Linked DNA regions of Homo sapiens: region 1 is linked to region 2. Evidence: fine-mapped expression QTL. A gene starts in region 2. The other region holds a variant in brackets. All regions are shown on one strand. Distances are between the middles of the regions.

The links. PIP is the estimated chance that this variant, and not a neighbour inherited with it, causes the effect.
Region 1: its variant is the best candidate, but not a certain one, in a credible set for the expression of ODF2 in cerebellar hemisphere (GTEx, PIP 0.82).

The regions. Positions count from the first base shown.
Region 1 is chr9:128,507,355-128,511,874 of GRCh38, forward strand. It overlaps GLE1 (GLE1 RNA export mediator), which reads left to right. Exons shown (of 16, transcript NM_001003722.2): 2 at 1,522-1,743. Among named protein-coding and RNA genes, the nearest start is that of GLE1, 4.9 kb to the left of the region's middle. The variant CA/C (reference allele first, on the strand shown) is at 2,604.
Region 2 is chr9:128,454,439-128,458,438 of GRCh38, forward strand. ODF2 (outer dense fiber of sperm tails 2) reads left to right here and starts at 1,568. Exons shown (of 21, transcript NM_001351578.2): 1 at 1,568-1,817. The coding sequence starts at 1,654. RefSeq lists enhancers at 641-1,377, 1,251-1,340, 1,378-2,113, 1,471-1,520, 2,114-2,849 and 1 more and silencers at 1,741-2,050, 2,181-2,280, 2,311-2,460, 2,671-2,720.

The DNA.
Region 1 (4,520 bases), 53 kb after region 2:
GCAGATCACTTGAGCCCAGAAGTTCGACACCAGCCTGGGCAATGTGGAGAAACCTCACCTCTACAAAAAATACAAAAAAATTAACCAGGTGTGGTGGTGCGTGCCTGTAGTCCCTGCTCCTTGAGAGGCTGAGGTGGGAGTATTACCTGAGCATGAAAAGTTGAGGCTGCAGTGAGCCGTGATCACGCCACTGCACTCCAGCCTGGGGAACAGAATGAGAGCCTGTCTCTCAAAAAAAAAAAAAAAAAAATAGTCGGGCGTGGTGGCTCACGCCTGTAATCCCAACACTTTGGGAGGCTGAGGTGGGTGGATCACCTGAGGTCAGGAGTTTGAGACCAGCCTGGCCAACATGGTGAAACCCTGTCTCTAGTAATAATACAAAAATTAGCCGGGTGTGGTGGTCGACACCTGTAATCCCAGCTGCTCGGGAGGCTGAAGCAGGAGAATTGCTTGAACCCGGGAGGTGGAGGTTGCAGTGAGCTGAGATCGTGCCACTGCACTCCAGCCTGGGTGACAGAGCAAGACTCCATCTCAAAAAAAAGGCTGGGCACACAGTGGCTCACGCCTGTAATCCCAGCACTTTGGGAGGCTGAGGCGGGTGGATCGCCTGAGGTCAGGAGTTCGAGACCAGCCTGACTAACATGGAGAAAACCCCGTATCTACTAAAAGTACAAAATTAGCCAGGCATGGTGGTGCATGCCTGTAATCCCAGCTACTCAGGAGGCTGAGGCAGGAGAATCACTTGAACCTGGGAGGTGGAGGTTGTGGTGAGCCAAGATCGTGCCATTGCACTCCAGCCTGGGCAACAAGAGCGAAACTCCATCTCAAAAAAAAAAAAAAAAAAGACCAGCCTGGGCAACATATCAAGACTCCATCTCTATAAAAAATGAAAAAATAATTAGCTGAATATAGTGGCGCATGCCTGTACTCCCAGCTGCTGGGGAGACTGGTTGAGGTGGGAGGATAGCTTGAGCCCAGGAGGTCAGGCTACAGTGAGCCATGATTAGGTCACTGCACTCCAGCCTGGGTAACAGAGTGAGACCCTGTCTCAAAAATAATTAATTTTAAAAATGAAAAAATATATACATCTAGGTTTGTGTAAGGATGCTTTACGATACTCGCACAATGACAAGATCACCTAACCCTGTGTTTCTCAGAACTTACCCCCATTGTTAAGTGACTGACATTCTACTGATTGTGTATACAGTAGCTTACTTCAGAATTCCTCGTGTTCTGTTCAGTGCTTTAGATTGCTTTCACATATGCTTTAGTGGGAATCTTTGTGCATTGTCCCTTTTTCTGTAGTTAGGGTTATTTAGTCTGATTTTCATTAGAAGGATAGTAGTCTAGGTCATTATCAAGAAACCACTGTACTTTGTTTTCATCTGATTGTTAATACATTACTTTGGGTCTTTGATGTTTATTTATTTAGGCCTTCTTAGATGTTCAGTAAGGCATGTAGTGGATTATACTGAGAACAGTTGACGTGTAAGTTGAGCTTAACCCTATTCTTTTCTCTAGGATGTTTTAGAAGAATGTATGTCTCTTCCCAAGCTATCTTCTTATTCTGGATGGGTGGTAGAGCACGTCCTACCCCATATGCAGGAGAACCAACCTCTGTCTGAGACTTCGCCATCCTCTACGTCAGCTTCAGCCCTAGATCAACCCTCATTTGTTCCCAAATCTCCTGACGCAAGCTCTGCCTTTTCCCCAGCCTCCCCTGCAACACCAAATGGAACCAAGGTAAGGTTGTGATCAGCTTAAGACAAAAGACATGGTGGCTGCAAAGTCAAAATGTTTAATATTGTCATATGACAGTGACCATACCCTAGGGGAAATAATGATTGCTCATTGTTGTAGCTGTTGTAGAGACAATGTTGACAGCACCATTCAGTGTTCTCTTTAGACAGATCCAGAGGGAGAAAAATCCCCTCTATTCTTAGTACCGAGAATAGTATAACTAATTTCATGAGCAATTGGATTTTTTTTTTTTTCTGATGAACGCTGCGTCTGTTTAACTGATATGGTCTCCCTTTTTGTGTTATCTGCTGGAAGAAGGCTTAGAGTGAAATGTATACCTTCTCTTTAAGTTTACATGCCTTCTCTCATTGGTTCTGTAGGAGATTTTACCCTATTCCTGGCTCTGTTTTGTCCCTGCCTCTGTTTTTTTGTTATTTCTCCCACTTAAAAATGCTAAACTGGGGCCATTTCCTCTCAGAAGACCCCTCTCTCTCACTAGAGAGAGAACTATTTTCCTTTCTCTTTCTCTTGCCTATTAAACCTCCACTCCTAAACGCAAAAAAAAAAAAAAAAGTTAAATTGGACCCAACACAGTGGCTCATGTCCATAATTCCAGTGCTTTGGAAGGCCAAGACAAGAGGATTGCTTGAGCCCAGGAGTTCAAGACCAGCCTGGGCAACATAGTGAGACCTTGTCTCTCCAAAATACTTAAAAATTGGCTAGGCATGGTGGCTCGAGCTTGTTGTCCTAGCTACTTGGGACATTGAGATGGGAGGATCACTTGAGCCCAGGAGTTTGAGACTACAGTGAGCTGTGATCAAGCCATTACATTCCAGCCTAGGCAACAGAGTGAGTCCCTATCT[CA/C]AAAAAAAGTTAAATTTTGGAAGTTTTTTAAAATTACTTTTTATATACTTCTAGAGGTAGTTTGTGTATATACAAATATACGTGAACATGTCTTCTTCTTCACCCTCCCTTTTTTTTGAGCTGAGGTCTGTCTCTGTCAACCAGGATGGAGTGCAGTGGCATGAACATGGCTCACTGCAGCCTCCACCTCCCAGGCTCAATCCACCCTCCTGTCTCAGCCTCCCGAATAGCTGGGACTGCGTGTGGACACCACCATACTTGGCTATTTTCTTTTTCTTTTTTTTTTTTGAGACGGAGTCTTGCTCTGTCCCCCAGGCTGGAGTGCAGTGACGCAATTTCAGCTCACTGCAACTTCCGCCTCCCGGCTTCAAGCGATTCTCCCACCTCAGCCTCCTGAGCGGCTGGGATTACAGGCACCCACTATCACGCCCGGCTTATGTTTGTATTTTTAGTGGAGATGGTGTTTCACCATATTGGCCTGGCTGTTCTCAAACTCCTGACCTTATGATCTGCCCACCTCGGCCTCCCAAAGTGCTGGGATTACAGGTGTGAACCACCACACCCAGGCTTTTTTTTTTTTTTTTTTTTAAGATGGAGTCTAGCTCTGTCACCCAGGCTGGAGTACAGTGGCATGGTCTCGGCTTACTGCAACCTTTGCCTCCTGGGTTCACGCGGTTCTTCTGCCTCAGCCTCCCAAGTAGCTGAGATTACAGGTGTGCGCCACCATGCCTGGCTAATTTTTGTATTCTTAGTAGAGACAGGATTTTGCCATGTTGTCCAGTCTGGTCTCAAACTACTGACCTCAGATGATCTACCCACCTCGGCCTCCCAAAGTGCTGGGATTATAGTCGTGAGCCACTGTGCCTGGCCAGTTTTTTTTTTTTTTTTCTTTTTTACATAGAAAGTATTTTTTTTCTATCTAGTAGTTCATCTTTTAAAATATTAGTCTTTAAAAAATATTCTTTGTGGCCACGTGTGGTGGCTCACACGTGTAATCCCAGCACTTTGGGAGGCTGAGGCAGGTGGATCACTTGAGATCAGTAGTTCGAGAGCAGCTTGACCACAGTGAAACCCTGTCTCTACTAAAAATACAAAATTAGCTGGGCGTCGTGGCGCACGCCTGTAATCCCATCTACTTGGGAGGCTGAGGCACTAGAATTGCTTGAACCCGGGAGACGGAGGTTGCAGTGAGCTGAGATCATGCCATTGTACTCTAGCCTGGGTAACGGAGCAAGACTCAGTCTCAAAATATATGTATATATAGAGACTGAGTAAATAATAACAACAAAATAAATAATATATATATTATAAATATACATAAATATATATATTTATGTTGATTTTGTTGTTGTTGTTGTTGCCAGAAAAGGTCTAGGTACTTTAAAATATATATTTTTAGCAACTGAACGTCTTAAGGAAAAAAAGGAACCTCCACCTAAATGTCATACCTTATATAAAAATTAACTTGGCCGGGTGCAGTGGCTCACGCCTGTAATCCCAGCACTTTGGGAGGCCAAGGCGGGTGGATCACTAGGTCAGGAGATCAAGACCATTCTGGCTAACACGGTCAAACCCCTTCTCTACTAAAAATAAAAAAAAAAATTAGGCGAGTTGGCGGGCACCTGTAGTCCCAGCTACTCAGGAGGCTGAGGCAGGAGAATGATGTGAACGCGGGAGGCAGAGCTTGCAGTGAGCTGAGATTGCGCCACTGCACACCAGCCTGGGCGACAGAGCAAGACTCCATCTCAAAAAAAAAAAAAAATTAACGTGATCATGGACTTAAACATAAAAAAAAAACTGTAAGCCTTTTAGAACTAAAACATAACCAGAATCTAGGGCTGGGTGAAGATTTATTTCTTTATTTATTTTTGAGACGAAGTCTCATTCTTGTCCCCCAGGCTGGAGTGCAATGGTGC
Region 2 (4,000 bases):
CTCAGTTCCAATACCATCACCTCTGGGAACCATCTCCTGCCTGCCCCAGGAGGACCGGGACCTCCTTTTCCTGTCCTCTTTTCCTTGAACCTGTATATACTTTTTTTTTTTTTTTTTTTTTTTTGAGACAAGAGTCTCACTCTGTCACCCAGGCTGAAGTGTAGTGGTGATTTTGGCTCACTGCAACCTCCGCCTTCCAGGTTCAAGGAATTCTCCCTGCCTCCTCCTCCCTAGTAGCTGGGATTACAGGCACACACCACCATGCCCGGTTAATTTTTGTATTTTTAGTAGAGACGGGGTTTCGCTATGTTGGGCAGTCTGGTCTTGAACTTCTGACCTTAGGTGATCCGCCTGCCTCAGCCTCCCAAAGTGCTGGGACTACAGGCGTGAGCCACCGCAGTCTTAAATGGTTAATGAGGATTAGGAAATCTATCAATTATTCAACAGAGAGACAATGAATGGATCAAGGGATTGGGGAGCTCCCTGACATTACAGAACAAATTCAGTATGCAGTATACTGTGAAAGCGAGGCGGAAAAGCAGGTTTTGTTTGCGAGTCTGACTTTAGGATTGCAGGTGAAACACTTGTGTGACCCTGGAGCTGTGTGGCTAAGGTGCTGCGGGGTCACTGGAGAAAGGTCAAGGGACTGTGGCCCAGTTGGCCCGGAGGTGGTTCAGGTCTCCCAGATTCCAGGGCGGCATTATGAGCCACGTGACAGACCTCCCCTGACTGGCTGACAGTGAAGCATAATTGAGAAGATGGCGGACCAGCAAGGACCTCATCAGAATAGGTCTGTACACAGAGCGGCATAGAGAGTGCAGGAGGGTAGTAGACCGGGCGCGGAGGCTCAAGCCTGTAATACAAGCACTTTGGAAGGCCGAGGCGGGTGGATCATGAGGTCAGGAGATGGAGACTATCCTGCCCAACACGGTGAAACCCCGTCTCTACTAAAAATACAAAAAAAAATTAGCCGGGCGTTGTGGCGGGCGCCAGTAGTCCCAGTTACTCGGGAGGCTCAGGCAGGAGAATGGCGTGAACCCGGGAGGCGGAGGTTGCGGTGAGCCGAGATCGCGCCACTGCACTCCAGCCTGGGCAACAGAGCAAGAATCTGTCTCAAAAAAAAAAAAAAAAAAAAAAAAAAAAAAAAAAAAAAAAGTGCAGGAAGGTAGTGAACAGAACAGCAAGGGGAATGCCGACCCTTTCTCCTGTTGGGGCCAAGACAGAGGCGATGTGGGCAGGGGAGAGGCCGGGGAATGCGCAGAAGCCGACTCCATCTCCGCATTAATAGTGGACTAGGGGCAGGGCTGGATTTTCGGAGGCAGTGTGCAGCTCCCAATAACTAGTTCCATGGGTCCTCTGTGAGCCTAGTTTCCTGGTGGGTACCGAGGGGAGGGCGTCGGAACCGTACGCTCCTTTGAGTGAGGGGAATCCGGGAGGATCCAAGGCAGGGGAAACAGGGCCGAGCGGGAAAGGCCTTGAATGGGGGGCGAGACCCGGCCAGGCCCGCTGGACGCGTAGCACGTCTCCTTGGTGACGGGACGCGTGGCCCGGAAGTGGGCGGCCCTTCTGGCGGGGCGGGGCATCTCTGTGACGCTAGGGGCTGGGCCTCGATGGCGAAACCCAAGCGGCTCCCGGGGGGGTTTGAACTGGCCAATGGGCGAGCTGCCGACCGGGTGTCGGAAAAGGAGGCGGAAGCGGGGAGGAGCCGCTGCCAGAGCCAGACTGCATCCGCCGCGGCGTCTCCATGGCACGACCCTGGCCTCCGACTTCAACGACTTCATAAGGCGGCGTTTCTGGGCGCAGCCGTGTCGCTCCTGGTGAGAGGCCGCCGGCAGGCGGGATCCAGCGCCCTCCGGGGCACCGCGGGCGAGACCGTCGCCTTCGCACCCCCGGCGCGGTCGACCCCGCGGGGCCGTCGGGTCCTGGGTTCCCCGCCGCGTTGCGCTCGTCCCCCTCCTGTCAGAACCTGGGCCCCCGCCCCGCCCACCGGCGCGGGGCCTCTCCTCCTCCCGCTAACGGGCGGTCGGCCGCCTCCTTCCTCTCTTGGCTACCACGGGGCTCTGCCCCTCCTCTGCCGCCCGCGGGCAGGGCTTCACCTTTCTCTCTATGGGCAGAAACCGGTACCCTCCTGCCTGCTGGTGGGTGGCCGTCCCTTCTCTCCGCCGACAGAGGCTCTCCCTCGCTCTGCTGCCCGTCGGCGGCATCGCCCCGACCGCCTCGTCCTCTCCTCGGGCCTCCACATGGCAGTCACTTGTACGCCCTCCGTAGGCAGCGCTGTCCCCCGGGCACCGTCTCCGGCTTGCCAGGGCCCTCGCCCGGCGGGGGGGGGTCCCGCCCGCCCCCTCCCAGCCCGGCGTCTATCCTGCTCAGAACTCTGTTCGGTTTTCCCTCGCGGCGGGGCGCCCGGGGCCCGTGCAACCTCCGCGCCTCCCTCCTTTAAACACTATTGGTCCTCTCGGGCATCTGTTCTTCCGTAACGCCCCTTCTCCTAGGAGACAGTTGTCCGGCCCCGCCCCAGCATCCCCGCGGCTCCCTGCGCGGTTCTGGCCCTCTGGGGCCCACTTGGGGCCGAGCGGTTCTCACCCGCCCTCTCCGCACGTCCGCCGGCGCCTCAGGTTTCCCCCGGTAGCCACCGGCAGTCCTCCGCGTGGGACCCGGGCGCGGTGGTCCTTTCCCTCGCGGTTCTGCCCCGTCCCCTCCCCTTCCTCCCCTCTGCCCCCAGGTCGCTCAGCCTCTACTATTTCCCCCTACTTTGGCAGGACAGTTGCTGTGCGACTTGGACAGTAGAGGAGCGCCTCCCAAGTTTTCATCCAACTGCCAACCCCAAAGCTTCCACCCTTCTCCCCTCAGAGAGGACGTTTGATGCCGGGCCCCTTGAGAGGCTCATTGACAAGCCTGCCCCTCTGGGTCCCCCTGAGCAGAGCCTGCTGACCCAATTGCCCACCTTTGCGGCTTTGATGCCTAGCCATGTCTGCCTCATCCTCAGGCGGCTCCCCCAGGTATTGCCGATGTGGGAGGCGCCTGCGCCGGAGGGCAGGGAAAGGTGGCCAGGGGTCCCCAGGGCAGGCTCGCCTGAGGCTTCCAGCTTCCTCATTGTGTTTGCTGAAAGTCTGGACCAAAACGTTTAAAAATCGTTTTTAAAGGGAAGGGGGAACGAAATGTATACACAATCCTAGCTCTACCTCCCTCGCTCCTTCCCTCCCCAGATGTCACAGCTTCCTGGAAGCAAACAGGGTCACTCTTGTTGTCTTTATATAATAGAGTACTAGGTTCAGAGCCTTTTTGAAGGGAGTCGAGGTGTAAATAAATAACACGTAGGAGGTGGATGTGGCAGTTAGCAAGATAATGGAATCCAGGTGGTTTGACAAGAAACCCACTGAGAGATTTCCCAAAGCTATTGGCTTTACGTGAACAATGTTCTAAATGATTAGGGAAAAAAGCCTGTCTTCTCAGTTTTGGTATTCCTTGGCTAAAGGATCAGTAGAGGTCTATATATATATATATATTTTTTTTTTTTCCCCTCTTTTTAAAATCACGATGTAATACATATACAGCAAAACGCATACCAAAGTGCTCAAGTATTTTTTTCCTTGCATTTTGATGTTGCATTATTTTCCCCAAGTGTTTGTAAAGAGGGCAAGATGATAATTTTGGACCTCCCTGTCTCTGCCCCACCCTCCCTGCCACCCCCTGGTCGCTCCAGCCTCTCTGATCTCCCCCCACTTTGGGGGGCCAGGTGCGGTGGCTCATGCCTGTGCAATCCTAGCACTTTGAGAGGCCAAGGTGGGTGGATCACCTGAGGTCAGGAGTTTGAGACCAGCCTGACCAACATGGTGAAACCCCGTCTTTACTAGAAACATAAAAAATTAGCTGGGCATGGTGGCACACGCCTGTAATCCCAGCTACTCAGGAGCCTGGGGCAGGAGAATTGGAGAATTGCTTGAAGCCAGGAGGCAGAGGTTGCAGTAAGCCAAGATTGGGCCACTGCACTCCAGCCTGG